4 linked regions of the Homo sapiens genome follow. The protein of the gene in region 4 purifies or fractionates together with the protein of the main gene of each other region. This does not show direct contact. Each region holds a gene or a part of one and is shown on either strand. Other genes may lie near its edges.

What was found.
Region 1: the proteins of PCDH20 (region 4) and MAP7D3 purify together in Homo sapiens (co-immunoprecipitation; 3 studies listed by BioGRID and IntAct, with this or other methods). This does not show direct contact.
Region 2: the proteins of PCDH20 (region 4) and CELSR2 purify together in Homo sapiens (co-immunoprecipitation; 3 studies listed by BioGRID and IntAct, with this or other methods). This does not show direct contact.
Region 3: the proteins of PCDH20 (region 4) and ITGA7 purify together in Homo sapiens (affinity purification with mass spectrometry; 2 studies listed by BioGRID and IntAct, with this or other methods). This does not show direct contact.

What each region holds. Positions count from the first base shown.
Region 1 is NC_000023.11:136,241,401-136,248,435, forward strand, and holds part of MAP7D3 (MAP7 domain-containing protein 3), read right to left. Parts: intron 4,942-7,035; coding exon 4,843-4,941; intron 4,749-4,842; coding exon 4,665-4,748; intron 3,396-4,664; coding exon 3,232-3,395; intron 1-3,231. UniProt on the Homo sapiens protein: Promotes the assembly and stability of microtubules.
Region 2 is NC_000001.11:109,259,516-109,266,550, reverse strand, and holds part of CELSR2 (cadherin EGF LAG seven-pass G-type receptor 2 precursor), read right to left. Parts: intron 5,510-7,035; coding exon 5,287-5,509; intron 5,039-5,286; coding exon 4,923-5,038; intron 4,744-4,922; coding exon 4,655-4,743; intron 4,265-4,654; coding exon 4,107-4,264; intron 3,746-4,106; coding exon 3,582-3,745; intron 3,410-3,581; coding exon 3,284-3,409; intron 2,941-3,283; coding exon 2,774-2,940; intron 2,474-2,773; coding exon 2,186-2,473; intron 2,098-2,185; coding exon 1,923-2,097; intron 1,684-1,922; coding exon 1,542-1,683; intron 1,361-1,541; coding exon 1,240-1,360; intron 817-1,239; coding exon 633-816; intron 447-632; coding exon 345-446; intron 1-344. UniProt on the Homo sapiens protein: Receptor that may have an important role in cell/cell signaling during nervous system formation.
Region 3 is NC_000012.12:55,684,037-55,690,908, forward strand, and holds the end of ITGA7 (integrin alpha-7 isoform 2 precursor), read right to left. Parts: intron 4,922-6,872; coding exon 4,808-4,921; intron 4,265-4,807; coding exon 4,166-4,264; intron 4,061-4,165; coding exon 3,935-4,060; intron 2,279-3,934; coding exon of another isoform or gene 2,166-2,278; intron 1,253-2,165; coding exon 1,022-1,252; 3' UTR 532-1,021; downstream 1-531. Other genes in the region: thiol S-methyltransferase TMT1B precursor, read left to right, coding at 1-13. UniProt on the Homo sapiens protein: Integrin alpha-7/beta-1 is the primary laminin receptor on skeletal myoblasts and adult myofibers.
Region 4 is NC_000013.11:61,409,179-61,412,878, forward strand, and holds the end of PCDH20 (protocadherin-20 precursor), read right to left. Parts: coding exon 2,065-3,700; 3' UTR 507-2,064; downstream 1-506. UniProt on the Homo sapiens protein: Potential calcium-dependent cell-adhesion protein.

The sequences.
Region 1 (7,035 bases), on a different chromosome or scaffold from region 4:
GATATGTCTCAGCTATCAATCAATACCAGTGCTTCTCCTAAATAACTCATTTTTTTTTATCTTATGGACCTTGCATTAAGAAAATGACCATGCTTTCCTCTTTGTTTGTATCATTAGGAAATTTAGAGCCAAATGTGTAGCCTCTTTCTAGCAACTGTACAAAGACTGATTGGTATACTTTTGTGCATGCTAATCATACCTTATGTTTTATTTGCCTATGTTAGTTTTCCCCTCTGCTTGATTCCCCCAACCATTTATTTTTATCATCTGGTGTGGTATGTATTTTTAAGTCACCTTAAATTCTTTGTAGAATGAGGCAGGGGAAAAATCAGCACACATATAAGTTAAATTTATACCAGAATCATCTAGTATACTCACATCTGTAACAGCTAAAATTCTGGTGTTAACTAATAAAAATAAAGTTTCAAAAAAGATAATCAATATATTTGTCTTGACCTCAACTTTAGCTGGTCAAGACAACAGCTATACAAAGTAAATACCATGCTGCAGCAAAACAACTCCACTTCCAGAAATGAGCTCTTCTCTCAAATATTTCTCATCCTTGTACTGTGCCATACCATGAACTCAGGTAAGCAAATCAACTTTTAGGACCAGAGATCTTCTATTTTTCCCTAACAACAACCGTTTCATAGCAAACACCATCCTTACAAAGCCTCTACTGTTTCTACCAATGGCAAAGATAAACGTACTAGGAAAATGGAGATGAGCCATATCTTCTGAGAAGAAAAGCAACCGCAATTCTTAAAATAAAGTTGATACAATGGGCAACATTTGAAAATTATATTTTCTAACAGAAAGGCAGTTGTTCTGAATTACTTAGAAACCCTGAAACTATAATAGACTAAAAACAAAGATTAACTTTGTATTATTAAACTATTTCTGATTCTATTCCACTGTTTCCAAATGCATTACCTACTGTGCTCTCTTCCAGGTCCCTTCTCACATCGTGGCCACCCAGGGCTCACATAGAAGTTCCTATCCCATTTCATATACACCTCCTGTCCACACTCATCCCTCCTCAGCACCACTGAGTCTGGGTTTTTTTTTTCTGCTCTCCAGAATTCCTCTCTTTTGCTATATGTAGCCTACTTACAGTGTCCCATGTCCCCTGTTCTGTCTGGGACTCTCCCGCACTAGCTATCTGGGGTTTTCTTTTGCCCCTTCTCCTGCCATGTCTGTGGCTCCCTTTCTGTCTGCAGTGTCATTTTGCTGCATTCTCTTCTATTCTCTGTGTTCTCTCTGGCAGCTTCCTCTTTCTCTAAGATAGTCTTTATTTTTTGGTCTCAGTCCCTGTGACTTGTCTCTCTCCTCCATGGACTCCCACTCACTCTACACACAGTTTGTATTTCACTTTCTTTGGTTCTTTACTTAGTTCTTGGTTCTTTCTTCGTTTATCATTACTTAGTTCATTCTCTCTCTTTCTCTGGCCTTCATCTCTTTACCACAGAAAAGTAAAATAAGAGAGATGTTTCAAGAAGATGATGGAAAGTGACAGAAATTCTGAATGAGAGTCTACCAAATACTAGAGCATGAAACAGAGCATAAACAACCACAGAAAAGGGTTCAGAAAGGGAGAGATATAGTACACCATGGATGGGGAAAAAGTGGCACAAGAAGTGTCCTAGAATCAGGAAGCTCTCCAGATAGGGTGCAGGGCTGGAGAGGAAGCACGTACAAGAGCAAAGGTATGGATGAGGAGGGAGGAAACTGAGCACCGCAGAGAAAGACAAGAGGAAGCTTCATGGGAGAAATGGAACCAAAGAGAAAAGGAGAGAAAAAGAAATGCAAATATTAGAGTGACAGAAAATAAGAGAGGGAAATAAAAATACAACACACTGAGAGAATGGCAGGCAGAGGATATAAAGATGGGGAAAAACAGACAGAAGCTAAGACAAAGACAGAATAAAGAAAATCAAGCTGCCTCAGGCAGAAAAAGGCCAGAGTCAGAGACCAAAAGACAGACTAAGGCTTATTTAGGGACACTTAAGAATCCCTATAATAGGCTGGGCACAGTGGCTCACGCCTGTAATCCCAGCACTTTGGGAGGCCAAGGAGGGTGGATCACGAGGTCAGGAGTTCAAGACCAGCCTGGCCAAGATAGTGAACCCCCATCTCTACTAAAAACACAAAAATTAGCCAGGCGTGGCGGTAGGCGCCTGCAATCCCAGCTACTTGGGAGGCTGAGGTAGGAGAATTGCTTGAACCGGGGGGGCAGAAGTTGCAGTGAGCCAAGATCACGCCACTATACTCCAGCCTGGGCGACAGAGTGAGACTCTGTCTCAAAGAAAAAAAAAAAATCCCTGGAATAAAGAGAAAGAGAGAATGCCAGGAAGATAGAGGACAGTGTCACAGCGACCACGCTAGATTCAGAAGGAGTGAAGCATACTCCAAGTCAAGTAGTGAAATGACCTACAAGAGAAAAATTTGGTGTCAGAGAGAATCATACGGAATGAGACAGGTAGCCAGATGCCCAGTACCACAAAAGACAAACTGAAGAAAGACAGAAGTGAAAAAGAGAGGGCATAACAAAGCCACAGACTCATCCCAACAGAGTGCCAAAGACACCAAAAGAGAATCCAGAAAGGAAAAGAGAGGAGCAGTGCCACAAAACAAGAGCAAGAATGCTGACTCTGAACCACACATCCAGAGGGGCCCTGTCAGGAAAGGGAATGTGAGGAACACGGAGACAGAGGGTAGAGAGGGAGAGAGTGTGAGTGTGCACCAGAGGGAGCCAGGGAAGCTGAAAAGGAGAGCGAATGCCCTGATTTGGCTGGGGAGTCACACTTTTAAAGGAGTTGTGAGAAATCGGTCAGATGAGGGCACGTCAGGGAGGGTCAGACAGTGGGGTCTGCCCCTATTCTGTAGGCAATGAGACAACAGTGAATACTTTTTGGTAGTAAACAGAGCCACTCAGAACAAACCCCAGGCCACAGGTACCTCATGTGCCAAGTCCTGAAGGTGGATGGGGCTTTGTTCCTGGATTTGGAAGTCTCCCCATTCCCTAGGCTAGTGGGTCTCAGCTCCTGGCATCTTATCAGGACATGGGTAAAAGCCTATATAATGCTGAGGGGAAGAGGAAGCGAAGAAGAAAGAGCTGGGATTGGTTCCCTTTCTACAGGGCAAGTAAGGCAGAGAAGGCCTGAGAAAACAATATTCTAGACTCAGGCAACACAGTTTATCCTCTCATGCACAGGCTGCAAAATTATGTACCTTTTGTGCTTCATCCTTCTGGTGTCTTTTTTCTTCTGCAGCTATTCTCCGTTGTTCTTCTTTCTCTTTTCGCTCCTTCAGCTTTCTCTGTCTTTCCTCCATCTGTTTTTCATATTGGAGCTTGGTCTTTCTTTCTTTTTCAAGTAGTTGTGTTTCTTTATTGGCTGAAATATTCCAAATACATTTTCAAGGTGTAAGAGCCAAGAAAATATTTAGGTTTTCCACATTACACACACAGAAGGAAAAAGTTAACACATCTCATTCACTTTCTTAAAATAACACAACCTGTGCTAGTAACTAAAGATTTATTATAAAAGTGAACAGAGGTAGCCACTGCAGAACCATTTTCACTGAGTATTCATTTAACTCTGGAGAACTGGATTGTCTGTGCCAAATGACTCTCATCCTGTCCAAACTACAATTCCAAATTAAGAAAAAATATTTTCTTTCATGTGATATTTCTGCTGATTTGAGCTAAAGTCAAACCCTACCATATTAATATGCTGTACATTAAAATACTAATTATTAAAAACTGCATGGCCAGGATACATGTTTTGTTCCCTTCTACTAGGAAACTTCTTTCAAAGTCCTCATCTATACAGACCATATTAAACATGCCAGTTTTACATTAATGGACTTAACCATATACCATATTACAGGAGAGCAAAATTTTTCCTATATTCAAATTTTCCCTCACTAAATGCTTCTGAAGTGTGACTCTGTATAAATTAGGATCTAAAAGGATAATCTTTTTACAACTTGGTAACATGCTTTTCATCTTATCTATGTTAGGATTATTGGCAATTTATTTTCATTTTTAGAATAACTTTTACTGGCCAGGCGCGGTGGCTCACGCCTGTAATCCCAGCACTTTGGAAGGCCGAGGTGGGTGGATCACGAGGTCAGGAGATCAAGACCACCCGGGCTAACACGATGAAACCCCGTCTCTACCAAAAATACAAAAAATTAGCCGGGTGTGGTGGCGGGTGACTGTAGTCCCAGTTACTCGGGAGGCTGAGGCAGGAGAATGGCATGAACCCGGGAGGCGGAGGCTGCAGTGAGCTGAGATCGCGCCACTGAACTCCAGCTTGGGTGACAGAGTAAGACTCCGCCTCAAAACAAAACAAAAAAAAAAGAATCACTTTTACTGAAATCCCATTCTGATTGTTTTTACAAATATTGAAGAAATTTCCAGACCTTAGTTTTCAGAAAATCAAAGCTAAGATAAACTACTCCTTCAAAAATTAAACAATTTAATCAAAGAATTTTCATGGGCCTTCTTGCCTGATTTAGTAAAAGGATTTAATCCAAAATAATACATAATATAAAAATTATACTCTATCATATAAACAAATTAGGAGGAATAAGTTAAAAACACTTTGCAATATATAACACAATTCATTTTGATTTTTGAAAAAAGGTCTAAAATATACCGTCTTGCTGTCTCCTTTTCTCCTCTCTGCGCTCTCTTGCTAATCTTTGTTTTATGTCATTTTTAAGCATGGATCCATCGATTACTAAAAAAAAAAGAATATAGTTAGATATTAATAGGATATCAAATTTTAAAGATATGACACTTTGACATCTATCAAAGCATCAGAGAAATTATACCTGGTTTAAATGTCGATCTTATATTTGAGGAATGGGTTGCAACACGATTAACCACATCTTGCTTCCTCCTTTCCTTAGCAATCTCGTTTGCTGCAGCAACTAAAATACAGGGAGATAAAAGGATTAGATGTTAAGAATACGGATAGCTAACACAGGAGTCAGCAAACCACGGCCAATTGTATTTGATGATAAAGGATAGGATCACTTCTATAAATCATGACTGATTTCATCTGGGTCAACAACAAAGATATATTGAACACCTATGATCTTCAACAACACTTTAACAAAGAATTTAAAGTGTTTACTATGATGGGCCAGGGTATTTGTAGACATAAAGATAATTGAGTTGTTAGTGGCGGTGGCAGCATAAGTTTGTGGATGAGTAGGAGCCAATGATTAATAGGTTTTAAAAATGTCTCAAACAAAACATTACACCAAGTGTTAGAAATACTGAGCTGGCGAGGAATTGGGAAAATTAAGTTTCACCATAAATTGGGAATTCAGAAGATAACAGGTTAAGAATTTATGGATCTGAATTGGGAAGCAAAGTGTTAACAGTGAAATACTCAGTGAAAGATCAGGCCCAACCAATGTTAAGGAGTACATTTATAAATTACCTAAATTAGGGGCTTTCTATCCTGGTTGCACACTGGAATCACCTAACTCACTTTTAGAAAATCAGCAATGCCTGCCTGCCCGCTCCCCATCACCAGTCTCTGGCTGTGGGGCCCAGGCATCTACAATTGTTGAGCTCTATTCTGATGCATATTGAAGGTGGAGAAATAAATATTCTTTTAGAAGAAGTAATCTCCAATGAGATGGTATCATTCTAGGTAGATGTCAAGCAAACAAATATAAATTATACAAGGTGCAAACAAACGTGTAAACAGGCAGAAAAGTGATAAACTTCAATAAGGGTGAAGTGTAAGATTAGGAAAGCACAGTATGAGGAAAAGTAAGAAAACTAAAATTCCAGGATGACACACATGAGTTATTATAGGGGAATCCCTGAACCCTTTAATTCCACACATGGCTATATCTAAAATGTCCCACAATACTGAGCATCTTCAGAAAGAGTATTGAAAATAACACTGAAAACTAACTCTGTTCTTCTTTTGTAGAAAAGCACAGGAAGTAAGCCCCTGTGATGCTGCATACAAGTCTGGTTTCTATGTATTGAGAAAAATGTAACAGTTGAAGATGGGCAGTTAAAGTAACTGAGGGAATAGAGGGGCTGTCCTTGGACTTATAAAATGAATGAACTCTGAGGTGTTAATTGCTACTGAGGGAGTTATTTTACAGCATAATCTTGAAAATGACATCACAATTGCTGCCGTAAGGATCACCATTTTTTTTTTTTTTTTTTACCCCAGAGGCCGAACAGCCCAGATAATATATGACCTAGCTTAATTTGAGGATTAGACTCTTCTCAGCTTCCTTAATAATTTAAGTACTGGCAATTCCATGGACCACAATTATTTTCTGAATTTGAGCACTAGTATATTAACAAAAATTCTTGGTCTATAGACACTCCTATATACCCACTTGCAACATTTTTATGTGAGTGCAGAGAAAACAATAAAGTACTTGTAGTATTGTTTTTACACATTCAGTTCTCCTGCTTAGAAGTCCCAAGGATAGTCCGTATTTGACACTATTTAGCTGATAATTTCCCTCAAAATCTACATTTTTGGCCCAGAGTGGTGGCTCATGCCTGTAATCCCAGCACTTTGGGAGGCCAAGGCAAGTGGATCACTTGAGGTCAGGAGTTTGGAACCAGCCTGGCCAACATGGCAAACTCCCATCTCTAAAAATACAAAAATTAGCTGGGTGTGGTGGTGCATGCCTGTAGTCTCAGCTACTCAGGAGGCTGAGCCCAAGAGTTTGAGGCTGCAGTGAGCCTTTAGCATCCCACTGCACTCCAGCCTGGGCAACCCTGTCTCAAAAAAAGTATACTTTTACCAGGCTAATTAAAAATCTTATTAAACAGAAATAACCTTAGAAGTAGCTGTGGTGAGAATAATGAACCGAATCATATAAAGGTTAATGTGGTAGTAGTATCAAATCTGATTTTTAGACCTTTGTATCCAAATTCCTACTGGTAAGAAATACATTAACAGAAAGGACAGGGTTTAAAAATTATTTAAAATGTCCAGAAAATGGGATAACACCTTTATGTCTGGATATAATAAA
Region 2 (7,035 bases), on a different chromosome or scaffold from region 4:
TGTGGTGGCGGCCAGAGGCTTAGGCAGGAAAATTGCTTGAACCTGGGAGGCAGAGGTTGCAGCGAGCGGAGATCACGCCACTGCACACCAGCCTGGGTGACAGTGACAGACTCTGTCCCAGAAAAAAAACCAAACCAAAACAAAACAAAACAGTCCAAGATGTAGGCACACCTGGGCAACATGGGGAAGGGGGAATGTGAACCAAGGAAGATGGGAAATGAAATCCCAGGACCTGGAGGCCAGAAAGTGGGGTCCCCGGATCTTCAGCCAGGAGCTTCCTGCCCTCATCCCACTAACAGCAGAGGCCATGTCCTCGACATCACATCGGGGCCTCCAACACCTACCAAAGGAGCCTTTGGGACAGGGAGCAGCAGCAGGCAGCCCGAAGCGGGTACGGGGCCACCAGATCCCAGCCTCAATCGCTCGTGGGCAGCTGTCATAATTCACTGCGGGGAAGAGCACATGGTCACCCAGGAGCAGCTCTCCCTCTGCTGTCCTGCCCAGGCTCCCCAGCCCTCCCTAGGCCTCCCCAGGCCTCCCCAGGCCTGCAACCAGCCCCTTCCTGGCTTTCCTGGGGTGCAGGTGCCTAGCACACTGTAAGGAGGGCTGCCCACCCATCCCAGGAGCCCCACCTTCACAGCCATTGGTGGTGACCTCAGCAAAAGGGTTGTCACAGCGGTCACACTGACGCCCGATGACACCTGGCTTGCATGGACACTGGCCATCCTCAGGGTCACAGACTCTGGACAAGGAGCCTGTGGGGTAGCAGTCACACAAGAGGCAGGTGGGGCTGCCTGGGGGCCGGTAGTGGTTCTCCTGAGAAAGGAGGGAAGAACGGTGTCACTGGCCAGGCTCTCTTCCCAGGATGCTCATGGGTCCTTCTCAGCTGTGGCCCCTGTGGAGAGGGTCCCGACCTCAGGTCCCCTCAGGAGCAGTATTCAAAATAATTAACACTAGCAATGCTTTGGAGTTGAGCCCATCAGCGAGATGTCACAGAATCAGAACAGGCTGCAAACCACCACCACACCAGGCCAGAGCTCATGGGTTACACATTGGCCCAGGGTCCCCCTGCGCCTCAGACACACGAAGGTAAGCAGCCAACTGCCCTGCCTGTGAGAGCAAAGGCACAAGGCCCTCAGCTCTACAGGAAGACCCATCCCTACAGCCTGCCCTCTAGGGCCCAGGAGATGTGGACAGAGGCCCAAGTGGCCACAGTGGAGGCTTGCTTGGGGCTGTCACCTTGCAGTGGCACTCGCCGCTTGTCTTGTTGCAGTCTGGGTCAAAGCCTTTGCTGACATCACAGTTGCATGGGCCACATGTGGGATGTCCCCACCAGCCACGGGGACAAGGCTGGTCAATCCTGCAGAGAGGGACCCAGGTAGGCATGAGCTCCCCCTGCCACTCCCACCTAACCTAGGTGAGCCCTATGTGGCCCTTCTGACCCTGGCTGTGGATCAGCCAGGCTTTCGGGGCTCTGAGGGACACACCAGAGAGAAGCAGCAGCCACTGGGACCTGCTGCCACATGCCCTGGTCTGCTTACCTGGTCTCACAGTATGGCCCAAGGTAATTTGGGGGACACTCGCAGGTATAGCCATGGGGGGCACTGGGCTTGCGGGTACACACAGACTGGTGCTCACACGGGTTCAGGTCACACACATTAGTACAGTTGTCACCATAGTAACCTGGGACCAGAAGGACCAGAGAGGCTCATTCCCCCACCCTCCCCTGGCACCATCTTCCATCAAACCCTTCATCTGTTTCTTTCCACATAGCATCCTATCAGCTGGCTATGGCTTTGTTGTGTAGGCAACTAAGACTCAGAGAGGTGGTGTGATGCCCCATGCCCCAGGTCACACAGCAGAGCCAGCATGTGGCCCCAGGCACCTGATAACCTGCCCGTTGCCCTGGATCCTTAGCATACCTGGATCACAGCTGCAGGAATAGCTGTCCCAGTCGTTGCTGCAATAGCTGTTAGCAGGACACGGGTTTGAGTCACAAGGGTCAGGCAGGCTACAGCCTTGCTCCACGTTGATGCTCTCCCCATGGCTGGGATCCAGGCTGTTAACCCCCTCCGGCGTATCGCTCACCCGCACACCCTGGGAGGGACAGGAGCAGTGTTGCCCTCAGTGGAGCGGGGCTGCAGGTGGTGGGGGAGGGGATGGGAGGGCAGGGCAGGACACTCACCTGCAAACAGCCCCGAAAGCCACGGGCCACACCGCCGGCTGGCCCAGGTATTCCGCCCACTGTTATGTTGCTCAGGTGCAGACCATGCAGCCGGGGGCCCAGGTTGCCCTCTGCTCTCTGCTGCCCATAATCGAAGGACAGAATGGCATGGCCGGGCCCCCCGCTGGCTCCCAGTGCCAGCTGTGCATGGTGCCAGTCACCGTCATTGGCCCGGCCTGGCTCCAGACGGAGAGAGGAGGCCTGAAGCCCTGTGCCCTCCACGCTCAGCATCACGTGGCCCTCTCGTAGCTGACACCAGGAGGAAAGAAAACAGGGTCAGCAGACGGCCTTAATCACTGTTCTCCAGCTCACAGTTCCCCTTTCTGGACCATCAAACCCATCCCGCTGCCCAGCTGAGGCCATAGAGAGGAAAGCGTATTTATTTCCCTCAGGCCCAACAGGTGGCAGCATTGACCTTCCCAACGGATCCAGCGGCCTCTATATGTCCCCACCCCTGCCCAGGACCTGCCCAGCCACTTCTGTCCAGCCGCCTAGAGGCTACCAGGGCCCTATGGCCAGGCCAGGGCCAGCCGCCCTTCCATGCATCACCTGTAGGGTGATGGTGCTGCGCCCCCTGGTGATGGCCTGCAGCAGGACACCGTCGGCCTGGCGCGTGCGGAACATGAGGCTGAGGTACCAGGGTTGGGAGATGGGCAGCGAGAGGCCATGCCAGGCCACCAGGCTGCTGCCCAGGAAGTGCTGTGGATTGGCCATTTCTGGGGAGGCAGGAAAAGGCAGACTGTGACGGGTGGAGCCTCAGAGGGCCCTGGGGCTGTGATGCTCAGCGGTGGCGGCTGCACGGGAGGCAGAGCCCACTCCCCTCATCAGCCCCGCCCTCCAAAGTGCGTACCTGCCCTGGGACCGCCCCACGCTGTGCCCAGGCCTGCCTCTGACTGGCCCCTTTGTCTCCTGTGTTGCCCTTTCAGGGCTCTGCCCAGACACGCTTTTCCACCCACAGCCCCGCTCAGCAGAGCCCTGCCCAGTGCCTGCCCCAACCCTGCCAGTTCCCAGACTGTTGATGGCACCCAGGCTGTGGCCTCTAACAGCCGCCCCTCCTACCCTGGGCGCAGCTCTTGCCCCCAAAGCCCAGGGGGCACTCGCAGCTGAACGCGTCCCACTGGTTCACGCAAGTGCCCCCATTGTGGCAAGTGTTGCTGTCACACACGTTCTTCTTGGCAGGGCAGCCTGGAATGGAGAGAAGGCAGCTCAGTGGACCTGAGCTGGGGCTCTAAAGAGAAAGCCTGTGGCAGCAGTTAGAGAGGCCTCTGAGACCCTCCATTCTGGCATCCTCACACCAGGCACAGCCCCTCCTCTCAGCACTGGGATCCCAGCCTGGCTCCACCCCGGGCCCCCATACCAGGCACGGTGCCATTGTTGGCAATGAAGTCAGCCATGTCTATGTGCCGGCTGTCCACCTGCAGGTTCCGCATGCAGCCCACGAACTGCCGCATTCGGACTGGGAAGCTCTCGGGCAGGTCAGGCACCCCGCCTAGTAGCAGGGGCCCCGTCAGATCCAGAGACCTGGGGGAGCAAAGATGGTGGCGGCACAAGGGAGGGCTGGGAGCTTCTGGTCCTCCGCTCGCTCTGCCGCCAGGCCAGAGACACGAACGGCGTAGGCAGGTGTCCAAGAGGCCCTGCAGAGCAGTGCTCAGGAAGGGCGTCACCCCTACCTGGAACTGTTCTTGTCGAACACTCAGCCCCCTCCCCAGACTGCCCCACAGGGCCTTGCTCTGATTCCCCAGTCTTGACCCCATCCCCAGGGCTGAGCAGGGGCTAAGAGAGGCAAAGGGAGAGAGACCCCAAAAGCCCACCCTCTCCACCTTCCCTCCCTGCCTGGCCCTGCCCTCACTTCACCCCATCCCTGGCCCTTTCCCCTGCTCACTTCTTGCTGCCACCCTGGGTGCCCTGGGCAGCACAGGAGTAGTTGCCCAGGACAGATCCGAAGCGCAAGGCCACTCCTGTGTCACAGCCATCCACGGTCACCACAGCCACCTTCTGCTCTGATGGGCCCTGTGGGAGCCCTGTCTGACCCAACAGTGGCTGTGGACAGGAAAGAGCAGAGAAGGGGGACACTGAGTACAGAGCCCACTAGGTTCATGGCCAGCACACACTGGGTGCCTCTGTGTGCACCCACATGCCCAGACACACGTACACACATGCATATACACACACGTGTGCTCACGTGGTTTATGCATGTAACTACCTTCCTCAGTGTCCAAGTTTGCGGCTGCCTAGTGGAACAGAGAGCATCGAGCAGTGCCCAGTGGGGTGGGAATGCCCAGCAAGGTGGCACCTTCCCAGCCGCTCCCTTCCTCTCAGCCAGAAATGCCCTGACCAGCCCACCCAAGCCTGGAGGCAATGCCACTCAGGGCTGGGTAAGCACCTGAGGCAAGAACAGAACCCCCAACCCTCTGTGCCCTCCACACCCACCTTATTGTAGTATTTCAGCTGCACCGTATGCCACTGGCCATCACTGACTCCTCCGGGCACGAATGGGGACACCGTGGTGGTTGACTCCCCTGGGGAAAGGACCAGGTGAGCTGGAATGCCTGACGAGGGCTAGGAATGGCAGGGTTTGGGGTGCCAGTGGCTGGGGCTGGGCCCAGATTTGGCTGATAGAGTATGTGGCTTGGGGTCAGGGGCTGGAAGACTTGGGGCCTTTGGAAGATGGGCAAGGATGGGGGGCAACTGTGATCACCTGCAGAGAAGGTGAGCTGGACCTGCTCCTGGATCACCTCGAGGGCCACAAAGTCATGCTTCTCATTGAAACGCCCATTGTACAACAGCAACCCGTCGCGCTCCTTTGTGGCAAACCTGAACAGGAGTTGGGGATGGGGGCAGGGAATGGGGTACCCACCTGGATGCCAGCACCCCCGCCACCTAACCAGCGCAGGGGAGGGAGATCTGCTGGCAGAACCACAGGCAACTCCAAGAGCAGACCTGGCTCTGCCGGCAGCCTGCTCCACGCTTTCACTGCCTGACCTCTTACTTCAACCACAGAACAGGAGGCACCTCAGATGCCCACCAGGCCCACTCCCCACCCCCAGTGCCCAGCCACTCACGAGAGGGCCAGGGTGAAGTGGAAACGCTGGCGCAGGCCGCGAAAGGTGATGAAGGAGTGGGCGGGGAAGCTGCGCGTGGTCACCTGGCAGTAGGGCTTCTCGAAGTCTCCAGATGGGCAATCGCACTTGAAACCGCCCACCAGCAGGTTGACACAGGTGCCCCCATTCTTGCAGACACCCGGGGTGCAACGGCCTGAGCGAGCACTCACCTCACAGTGCTCACCTGGACAAGAGGAAAGGCAGGTGAGTACCAAGTACCTGAGGACAGGAGGGGAACTGAGACCCCCCACAACCCAGTGATAGCTCCCATGGCCTCCCGTGACCCTCGTAATACTCCCCAAACCTCCCAGGCATCCCCACTTCCTCTCGTGTGCCATCTTCTCTGAGACCTATGGTCCCCAGCCCTTCATGGGCACCCTGTTTGGCTCACTGAGCCGCTCTCGCCACAGCTCCACGCACTGCTCCCCTGCAAGTTCCTCGGAGTCCCCAGCACCTTCCCTACCCCATTTGGGTTTCATAAGCACAGGCCTGCTGGGACACTTGGTTGTAAGGCCCGGATCCCGGGAGCCTTCGATGTCACACTACCAAGCACACCTGGGGGTGTCCTGGCCCCCAAGAGGGTAAATGTGCACAAGCAGATGGGCCTGCAGGACAGCGGGAGGGCTGGGAGCCTCCCTCCTCCCTCCTTCCCACTGGTGCTTTTGTCCCTCTCAGGCACTGAGATCAGTTTCCCTCCCTGGGGATGGGACCAGGCTTCCACTTAGATTTGTCTGGGTTATGGAAGAGTATGAGAGAGAAGCTGGGGAGCCCCCAGGAATGGGGCAGAGGACTCCCACCTTGAGCCCTGCGGTCCAGACTAAGGACCTCTGTGCACCTGGGACATGCTGAGAGTGGGAAACTGAGCCCTGAGAGCAGACAAGAATTCAACAGAGGAGCTGAAAACTCCAACATCAGATGGGAAAATCCACCCTTCTCTCCCTCCCCATTCCCAGATTCTAGAGATAGGTTCTCAGCTCCTGTGCCTAGTGACTGGCTCTTGTTTCCATGGAAACTGTTGTTCGCCTGCTCTAACCCCCCCCCTCCCAACCCCCCCCACCATCCTCCTGGACAAAGACTTCTCTCCCCTCCCCCAAGCCCGTCCCTCCCCTTCCCCCCACCCCTAGCAGCAGCAGAGAGAAGTCAAGTCTGGCAAGTTCTGGGCAGGAAGATGCAGCGGGGAAGGAGTGGGGCCTGCCTATGGCTGCTGGCAGAGCCAGTGGGCATGGCCCTGGAGGACAAGGAGCAGGGCCTGGGCATCTAGGAAGGAAAGGCCCACAGGGAAGGGGAGCAGGGGGTGTCCTGAGAAGACACAGGAGCCTGAAGGGAGGGGTCAGGAGCATAGAGCAGAGACAGTGAGCATCCCAGGGAGCAGGATGTGTAAAGACCTTGGCTGACAGGCCAACAGGGAAGCCGCCTAGCCAGGATCCTCTTTTACCAGCAGCTGGGCGGAGGCGGAGCCATTCTGCCCAGGCCCATACAGGTGCAATGGTTTTCTGGAGCACCCCATCTCAGAACTCAACCCCCTCCAGTTCCCCCAGCTCTTCTGTGTCTTCCCCTTAATGCCTGGGGAGAAAAGTACTTGCTGCAGCTCAGAAAAGGAACTCGCTCAGTGGGGGAGAGACCAGGTTCTAGGCCCAGCCTCACCTCTAAACCGGGTGTGATGAGACCAGGAGCAAGTCACCCAATCTCAGCGTTCCCTTAAATCAAGGC
Region 3 (6,872 bases), on a different chromosome or scaffold from region 4:
GGCTGTCAAATAATCTTTCCCAAGCTCCAAGGCACTCATTTGCTCCTTCCCCAGCCTCCAATTAGAACAAGCCACCCACCAGCCTATCTATCTTCCACTGAGAGGGACCTAGCAGAATGAGAGAAGACATTCATGTACCACCTACTAGTCCCTCTCTCCCCAACCTCTGCCAGGGCAATCTCTAACTTCAATCCCGCCTTCGACAGTGAAAAAGCTCTACTTCTACGCTGACCCAGGGAGGAAACACTAGGACCCTGTTGTATCCTCAACTGCAAGTTTCTGGACTAGTCTCCCAACGTTTGCCTCCCAATGTTGTCCCTTTCCTTCGTTCCCATGGTAAAGCTCCTCTCGCTTTCCTCCTGAGGCTACACCCATGCGTCTCTAGGAACTGGTCACAAAAGTCATGGTGCCTGCATCCCTGCCAAGCCCCCCTGACCCTCTCTCCCCACTACCACCTTCTTCCTGAGCTGGGGGCACCAGGGAGAATCAGAGATGCTGGGGATGCCAGAGCAAGACTCAAAGAGGCAGAGGTTTTGTTCTCAAATATTTTTTAATAAATAGACGAAACCACGAAACCACTAGACTGATGGCAGCAAACTAAGGTCAGATGAGAGGGGAAACTAGAGAAGGAGCAGCCTGAGTCAGTGACACAACCTCCTCCCCGACCCTCTAGGTTAAGGCACTTCCGGGGAGGCAGGTCCTTGGGGTCCTGTTACACAGGGTGAATGGGAGAGGAAGGGATTAGGATCCCTTCTCCCCACCTTTGCATCAGGACACCCCTGCCCTTCTCACCCTACCCCATGGCCCTGTCCCTGATTTACCCACTCTCATCTCACAGCACTCTAAGGGGAAGTTGGGTGGGAGGAGTTCTTGTGGGTGGGAGAGGTCTGTGCCCCTGAGGAAGCCGATCCTGCCAAATCTTGATGCGACACCAGCAGCCCACTCTACCCTCTTCATCCCAAGGAGCCATCTCTGGGGAAGGGATGGAGGGCAGCCACAGGCCAGGCTGGGACATGGGAACCTAGGCGGTGCCTGGCCCTGGATGCCCATCGGGGCCCAGCTCGGGATGCCCGTCAGCAGCCAGGATGGGGTGTGCATCCGGGCCCTCCCGCCGGGGGCTGCCCCAGTTGTTCCTCAGGATGGTGCCCGTCTTCTCCTCCTTGAACTGCTGTCGGTCTTCCCGAGGAATCTTCACCGCATGGTACTGGGGCACGGTGGCCTCGGGGTGCTTCGCCCGTTTGAAGAATCCCATCTATAAGGACACCAGGCCAGACCATGAGGAGCCTGAAGAGCTGCGGTCCCTGGAGCAGATGCCTAGCGCGGCACAGCTCCTCACCCTCACCATCCCTGCTGCGGCAGAAAGGAAATAGGCTGAATAGCATCTGGTGTGGTGGGCAGCACCCACGGTGCTCCCATCAGTGCTGTGTCCCCAGGTTCTCATTCACAGCAAGAGAGAGACCAGAAGGGCGTCCAAGAGGCAGGACCAAGGGTATCTCCCTTGGCCCCTGAAAGAGGGCCTTGAGGGTGGAGCATCAGGACCGGACTCAAGATTTGTACCCCCTCTAGCTTCTTAAGAGACCCAATAGTGTCCCCCAGAACACAAACAAGACCTGAGGAAGAAAATGGCTTCCTAGTCCCCTGCATCTCTGGAATGATACCTCTCAAGCCTCATAAACATGCACCCCGTGTACTTGTACCTTGGGCGGCACGCCCCTTACAGCAATACCCTCTTGTCCATCAATACAGTAGTCTAGCCCCACCCTAAATGAGGACCATGCTGGCCCTTACACACCAGGGTGGGAATGTGCCCCTGCACACTCACACTCAGAGGCCCAGGACTCCTACATGCTCAGACTGCATGGCATCTCCTTACACATTCATCTCCTTGCACACTCATGCCCATAGAAAAAAGCATGCATGCGACCTCCCCACACTCCCACATGCTCACACCCCATGAGCCCACCAACCCTTTGTGCACGCCTCAGGCTGTGTAGACTTACCCTTATATCTGCACCCTTCTAATTACCTCTCACCTCACATCACTCTCATGCAATCTCATTTTTCACCCTGAACATTCCTGATCCCCTGAATGCTGGGAATTCTCCTTATATTCACACACATACATACCCACACACACTAGACACATGCACACACACAACAGTTACCCCACAGTCCCTGGACCCCCAACTTCCATGGCTGAAGGCTGCACAGCCAGACAGGCCCGGTGATAGTTGGTGGGAAAAGATGAGCTCTGGCTGCTCCGATGGAAGAAGCCACACTAGGATGTCGAGGGAGAAGCAGGGCAGAGGAAGCAGAGGATGGAAAGATTGAGGAAGGACAGGATCCCCTATCTCTGCTCTGTCTTCCTTCCATGGGAGCAGGGAGCAAGCATCCTGGGACCAGTTTCACAGAGGCATCAATCTCCCCTAAGACTGGGAAGGTTCCCAACAGCTTGGATGCCACTCCAGAGCCTGGTCTACTGATGATTCACACTTGCCAAAGGGTGGCTCAGTCTCTGATTGGTCCCAAAGAGCAGGCACAGGCAGGGGCAGTTCTCCAGAGCCCCAAGGACATGTGTGGTTCTGAACATAGCCCCCGATGTGGCAGATGGCTCAGCATATGACCCCGGTGATGTATGTGATTCCGTGTACTGACGTGTGCATGTGCATACTTTTACATTGAGCCCTGGATACCAGTATGATTCGGTATACAGCTCTGGGTGTACAAGAATGCTTCCATGCAGAGCCTGGTATGTGGAAGCTCTGAGTTCCGCCATGAGGGCAGTCCCCTGGAGGCCGTTCTCCGTGCTTGTTGGCCTTCTTGGCCACATTTACCTTTCCAGTTTTCACTGCCACATTCTAGTTAAGTCAGATCACACTTCTCTGCCTCCACGACTTTGCCTACCATGGTCCTGCTGGACCCCACCTACCTCATCCCCTTACATCCTCACCCTACTACCCCACCTTCCTCTGAGGACTGGTTCCAGTGCTACCTCCTCTCAAGCTTTTTTCCCTCTAAACTCCCACTCCATTTTCTCAACTCAACACTTCCTGCCTTGTCCTTGACTACAGGCTCACCACTCCCATCCCACTGGACTATAAAATCCCTGAGAACGAGATCTGCATCTGATTTCTTTTTTTTTTTTTTTTTTTTTTTTTTGAGACAGAGTCCTGCTCAGTCCCCCAGGTTGCAGTGCAGTGGCGCAATCTTGGCTCACTGCAACCTCCACCTCCCGGGTTCAAGCGATTCTCCTGTCTCAGCCTCCCAAGTAGCTGGGATTACAGGCACCCCCCACCATGCCCAGCTAATTTTTTTTATTTGTTTGTATTTTTAACAGAGACAGGATTTCACCATGTTGGCCAGCTTGGTCTTGAACTCCTGACCTCAGGTGATCCACTCACCTCAGCCTCCCAAAGTGCTGGGATTACAGGCATGAGCCACCATGCCCGGCTTTTTTTTTTTTTTTTTTTTTTGAGATGGAGTCTCGCTCTGTCACCCAGGCTGGAGTGCAATGGCGCCATCTCGGCTCACTGCAACCCCACCTTTCGAGTTCAATCGATTCTCCTGCCTCAGCCTCCCAAGTAGCTGGATCTACAGGTGCGTGCCACCACGCCCAGCTAATTTTGTATTTTAAGTAGAGATGGGGTTTCACCATGTTGTCCAGGCTGGTCTCGAACTCCTGACCTCAAGTGATCCACCTGCCTAGGCCTCCCAAAGTGCTGAGATTCCAGGCATGAGCCACTGCACCCAGCCTGCATCTGATTTATCTTTGAAACATCCAGGGACTAATAGAGTTCCTGAGACATGCAGGGCAAGTGTTCAGTGCAGATTTGCTGAATACATGAGTGTGTGGGTGGGTGACAGAACCACAATACAAAATGCTGCTCACCCAACCAGGAAGTCCACCCCCATCAGCCCCACCTCCAAGCCTCACCTTCCACAGGAGCAGCACCAGCAGTGCTAGCACCAGCAGCCCAGCCAGTACAGCCAGGAGGATGACCCACCAGGGCACTCCTTCTGCCACCACAGCCATGGGGTCCAAGTATACCATCACTGGGATCTGGGGAGCAAGGGGTCAATGGAGCAAGAGGTCAATGGAACAAGAACTGGAGGGAGCAGGAAAGAAGAGAGTCCTCCCCACCTATCCCCCAACCCTGCAGCTCACCACTGTGGAGGCATCTCGGAGCATCAAGTTCTTTATGGAGGACTTCACTGTGATGTTGGCCCGGACAATCACTTCCAGGGACTTCACAGCTGAGTACTCCTAAGGGAACAGGGAAGGAGACCCTTCTCCTAAATGCCCCATGTCTCCCTCCCTTCCCCTTACCTCCTGAAATTATAAATGTAATGGTGCCCAACACAGAGGATGTTTCTGCCTGGTTTGGGTTAAGAGTATGCTGCGTTTGGGCTGGGCACAGTGGCTCACACCTGTAATCCCAGCACTTTGGGAGGCCAAGGAGGGTGGATCACCTGAGGTCAGGAGTTTGAGATCAGCCTGGCCAACATGGCAAAACCCCGTCTCTATGAAAAATACAAAAATATCGGGTGTGGTGGCACGTGCCTGTAATCTCAGCTACTCAGGAGGCTGAGGCAGGAGAACCTCTTGAACCTGGGAGGCAGAGGTTGCAGTGAGCTGAGATCGCACCACTGCACTCCAGCCTGGGGGACAAAGGAAGACTCCGTCTCAAAAAAAAAAAAAAGGGGGGGGATGCTGCATTTGGACAGTGAGGAAGGAGGAGGAGAAATGAGTCCTGGAGGGGCTTTGGAGGAAGAAGAAACACAGACTAGAGCCGAGTGGTATCCTCACCTCCAGAAAGGTGCTGTTCCAGAGACGGCCCCAGACATGCAGCACAGCCGCGCGGTCAAAGCTGTAGAGTGGGCAGCTGAACACCACACAGTTGGCCGTGCCCCGGGCGCAGTCCTAGGGATAAGGACAGACAGGGGTCTAAGCCACTCAGCTCAACCCTGCTGAGACTGCCATCTCTCCCATTTTCCTTACTTGACCTCAAACTCCCCTCCTCCAGGAAGTCTTCTCAAACTAATCTTATATCCAAAATAGCTGCCTGCCCCAAATCTGAGCTATTCAGCTTTGAAATGCGTGGAGGGGGCAGCATGGAAGGGAATCTCTTACTTGACAGCACAGGCAGAGTAGCTTCCCCAAGTGATGCTTATGTTACCTAATGACAGTCCCATTTATTGAGCACCTACTACTTGTCAGGCACTTATCTCACTTAAGCTTCGCAATAGTCCTACAAGGTGCACATTATCATCCTCATTTTTCAAAGGAAGAAACTGAGGAGGCCCAAGGAGGCCAAGCGACCTGCCTCAGGTCACAGCACTAGCAAAGCTAATGAGTGGTGGAGCAAATATTTGAACTCAGGTCCATATTCGGCAAAGCCACACCCCTGCCCTAAACCCAAACTCGCTGAAGGAGGAGGAGGTAGCCTCAGGAGCTCCTGGGTAGACAGGGGACTCAGGCTCTGTTCTTTCCAGGACTGACCTAAATCCATTTGGCCCAATCACCACCTCACGACCCATTTGCCTGAAAGTTATGTTATATTCATCACACCACGATCCAGACACAGAAGAATGGCTTTAAGAGTGTCTGAATTATTTGAGTTATCTTTTATTTTGCCACTTTTGAGCCATTCAAGAATCCTTAGCCAAGCTGTCTAAAAGCAAGGCCTTCTGCCTTTTTAGTAAAAGAATCTACTTTAGTACTAGTACCAAAACAGAGATATAGATCAATGGAACAGAACAGAGCCCTCAGAAATAACGCCACATATCTACAACTATCTGATCTTTGACAAACCTGAGAAAAACAACCAGTGGGGAAAGGATTCCCTATTTAATAAATGGTGCTGGGAAAACTGGCTAGCCATATGTAGAAAGCTGAAACTGGATCCCTTCCTAACACCTTATACAAAAATTAATTCAAGATAGATTAAAGACTTAAATGTTAGACATAAACCATAAAAACCCTAGAAGAAAACCTAGGAATTACCATTCAGGACATAGGCATGGGCAAGGACTTCATGTCTAAAACACCAAAAGCAATGGCAACAAAAGCCAAAATTGACAAATGGGATCTAATTAAACTAAAGAGCTTCTGCACAGCAAAAGAAACTATCATCGGAGTGAACAGGCAACCTACAAAATGGGAGAAAATTTTCGCAACCTACTCATCTGACAAAGGGCTAATATCCAGAATCTACAATGAACTCAAACAAATTTACAAGAACAAAACAAACAACCCCATCAAAAAGTGGGCAAAGGACATGAACAGATACTTCTCAAAAGAAGACATTTATGCAGCCAAAAAACACATGAAAAAATGCTCACCATCACTGGCCATCAGAGAAATGCAAATCAAAACCACAATGAGATATCATCTCACACCAGTTAGAATGGCAATCATTAAAAAGTCAGGAAACAACAGGTGCTGGAGAGGATGTGGAGAAATAGGAACACTTTTACACTGTTGGTGGGACTGTAAACTAGTTCAAACCTTGTGGAAGTCAGTGTGGCGATTCCTCAGGGATCTAGAACTAGAAATACCATTTGACCCAGCCATCCCATTACTGGGTATATACCCAAAGGACTATAAATCATGCTGCTATAAAGACACATGCACACGTATGTTTATTGCGGCACTATTCACAATAGCAAAGACTTGGAACCAACCCAAATGTCCAACAATGATAGACTGGATTAAGAAAATGTGGCACATATACACCATGGAATACTATGCAGCCATAAAAAATGATGAGTTCATGTCCTTTGTAGGGACATGGATGAAATTGGAAATCATTCTCACTAAACTATCACAAGAACAAAAAACCAAACACCGCATATTCTCACTCATAGGTGGG
Region 4 (3,700 bases):
ATAAGAAATAAAATATGACTAGTAAGAGATGTTTCCTCCATTGCTACATATCAGTTATAAATGAAAAGTTTTGGGGGTTAAATGATCTTAGTCTCTTAGCTCAGATGCCTCTCGTACAAAAGGAATTTCCAATAAAAATATATTTACTTTTTGTAACAAACATTGCTGCCTCATATACTTATTATTTTATTTATTGAAATTCTCAAATTGAAGAAAAATAAGATAAATGAGTTAATTAATACAAATCTAAAAGAACTTGGTTGTTTGCATTCAATGTCTTTTTTGTAGAGTATTTTTGTTTTAAAAATTATTGCAAGCTATTGCAACACAGCTAACAGAGGATTTGTTATAAATCTGTAGTAAAATGAAAATTTATAATGATATTAAATCTATAATAAATTAATATGCATGTGCACATACATGGGTGCAAATTTTCATATGAACTTACATCAAACATTTAGGCATACTCTCTTTCTACTATATATATGTCTATAACTACACACACATTTAATAATTTACCCAATGTTTAATTGAGTAATGAATTCATTTAATATAAACTTTAGTATAGCAGAATACTACAGGTTACCCACATTTAACCCTAAAAACAAACAAATGACAGGCACTTCAGTGAAATAACAAGCCCATGTTCAAATATAAAATGCTAAAAGTGAGAAAGAAATTATGAAAATATATACCTTTAATTTGCAGACATATAAACACTTTTGGTACAGTACAGATGCATGATGCCAAAAAGTAAAATGATCCAGTTTAAGCTAACACATTCCTTGTTTATACAGATTATTTTGCTATAGCTCTCATATAAAATAATATTTCCAGCTCACACAATGAATTGAAAGTGATAAATCACTGATGAAATAGCTTTCTTCATTGCAAGAGATTCAGTAAAAGCTAAATTATCAAAGAAATCTGCTGCAGGGCTTACAAATAAACTGTTGGATTTAATCCAAAACCAAAGAAAGGAAGCCAGAAATGGTAGTCAACAAACCTAAACAACAACAAAAAGATAAGTACAGTATAACTTTCATATAAAAGGCCCAACTAAAACAACCAGTAGTGTACACAAGCCTCTAGAAGAATTCACTTTTAATATGATTTCTATTTTCTTATGTGATGGATGATTTCAAGCCTATAAAAGTCTAATATATAACCCAAGTATAAAGTACGACCAACAAGTTGTGAAAGCACTAAAATGTCATGAATGCCTATGAAGCAACTAAAGATTGAAGCATTTCTTTGCTTCTGGCTGTTTTTCTTGGGCACAATATCTAGTTACATTTCCTGTAATGAAGAATATATATATGTATGTATAAATCTATTTCCCTTGTAATAATAACAAGTGCAGTGGTAAAGCAAACAGAAAGCAATTCGAGTACACAGAAAGTGGAATACTCTTCAGCAGGCTGAATCTGTAACACAAGGCAATGATTTTATCCTTGCTAAAAAGGAATTGCACTTCTTTTTAATGCCTTCTCTTTCACACTATATATGCACTTATGAGGTAATAAACATTCTGTTTACAAGTGCATTTCTTTTTTTATCATATGTTTAAATAGGGTGAAATTTAATTTACTTTAATTTCATATTTGTTTAATGTTAAAAACAATATATTTAAAATATACTCTTTCATTAATTTCATGTACAACTGCCAAGTACAATACCCCAGTTTCCTGCAAAGGAGCAGCTGATGCCCTCTTGTGGTGACAGGAATTTTTAGATAAAAATTTGTTCCATTTTTCTTACCTTACTCCCAGGTTTTATCAATCATCTGCTTGGTGTATGAAAGCTGCAAACCATGTCCAAGCTTTTTTTTTTTTTTTAAATACAAGTCCTATAGCTGTTAGTACTAATTTTCACTTAAAAATGCTGTACACATTTTATAACCTCTGAATTTAAATTTAAAAACCTGTAAACAGCTATTTACAATATAGAACAAGTTATAAATTAGTTGTCCTTCATTGGAACTGCCATCAACACACTCTTTTTTAGGTGATGAAGATCCAAAGTCAGTTAAAACATTTCTCTGTGTTATTCCACCATGAAATATCAAATATTAGAAATATCCATTGGCTTTCTCTCTCGCATATGCAAGTCAATTTTTCCTTTCAGTGGAATCTGTACTTCCAAATTTTCATCTTCCCTGGGATGCTTTTCCCCTTTCCTTAAACAGATGTATATGCCCATCCCTGTGACCAGTGTGATGGAACCCAAGCTTATTACAGACAGAGCTACTAAGGTGGGCATACAAGACACAGATTCTACCTTCCTATGAGTCGGTTCTATTGAGATTTGTGGTTCTTTCTCCTCTATATTAATCTCTGGTTCTTTTCTTAAAAGACTCTCAATGTAACTCTCATTACTGACAGTGTCATTGACAAATAGGTTCACCATGACTGTGGAGTGGAGAGGCTCGGGATAACCATGATCACTCACTTTCACCAGTAAGCGATGGAGCCCATAATCTGTCTGCAGCAATGCCTCTTCCAAAGTAATGTTGCCAGTTTTAGGGTCAATCCTGAAGGACTCAGGCCTAGGACCTCTTCTCCCTATGATGCTGTAAGCTATGACAGCATTCATGCCTGTGTCTTTGTCGACAGCATAGACTTCTGTAACCGGGGAGCCTGGCAGAGTAGAAGGCAGTACTAACAGATAAGACATATTAGACTGAGGAAACAAAACAAGAGGAGGGTTGTCATTGATATCTAGAAGGAGAATTGTGATTTTTGCTGTAGAGGAGAGGGCAGGCTCACCCCCATCAACAGCTTCAACCCACAAAGTATAGGAGCTTTGCTGCTCTCTGTCCAAAGAGACTTTAGCCCTCAGCATACCCTTTCCTGTATCTATGACAAAAATATCACTCTGGTTCACCACAGAGAGGGCGACCCATCCATTTCGTCCAGCGTCAGCATCTGTTACACTAATTACTCCAATCTCACCATAGCCTGGAAAGTTTTCAGGCACAAAAAAGCTGAAGTCCTTGTTGATAAACCGAGGACTGTTGTCATTTTTATCCAACACTGTGAGGGCCACAGTGGCTACTGATTCTCTGGGTGGCTTCCCACAGTCAACAGCTCTGACAGTGTATCTGTACTTTTCTTTCTCTTCTCGGTCCAGCTGAGTAGAAACTGTCAGAATTCCTGTGACACTGTCTAAGGAAAAATATGATGGAGCATCAGGTCCCAGAAAATATGAAACTTGGCCTCTCTCCTCGCTGTCGGCATCTGTAGCATACAGCTTAGTCAAAAAGGCATTGGGTGAGTTGTTCTCTTCGATGGTTAGTTCTATTAAGGGTTGAAGGAAAATTGGAGCATTATCATTGTCATCTAAAAGTTGCACTTTAATGACCCTTTTGACATGAAATCCCTCAGAGTTCCAAGCCACCACAGCTACTTCATAGAACTGCTGTAGCTCATAGTCCATAGGTTTTGTGGTCTCTAGTAAATATTCATTATTGTATGGTTTGTAAGGTGATAACCTAAACGGCCCTTCACCATCCAGGTAGCAGTTAACCTTGTATTTACCTTCTGGATCTCTTATGGTGAAAAACGCAATGGGAGTGTTAACGGGTTCCAGTTCTTTCAGATAAACCACACCATCTATCTCGTTTGCTATGTAACGAGGGACAATTTCAGGGGGTCTGAAAATAACTTTAATAATGGACACAAGAGCAGTGATTACAGCA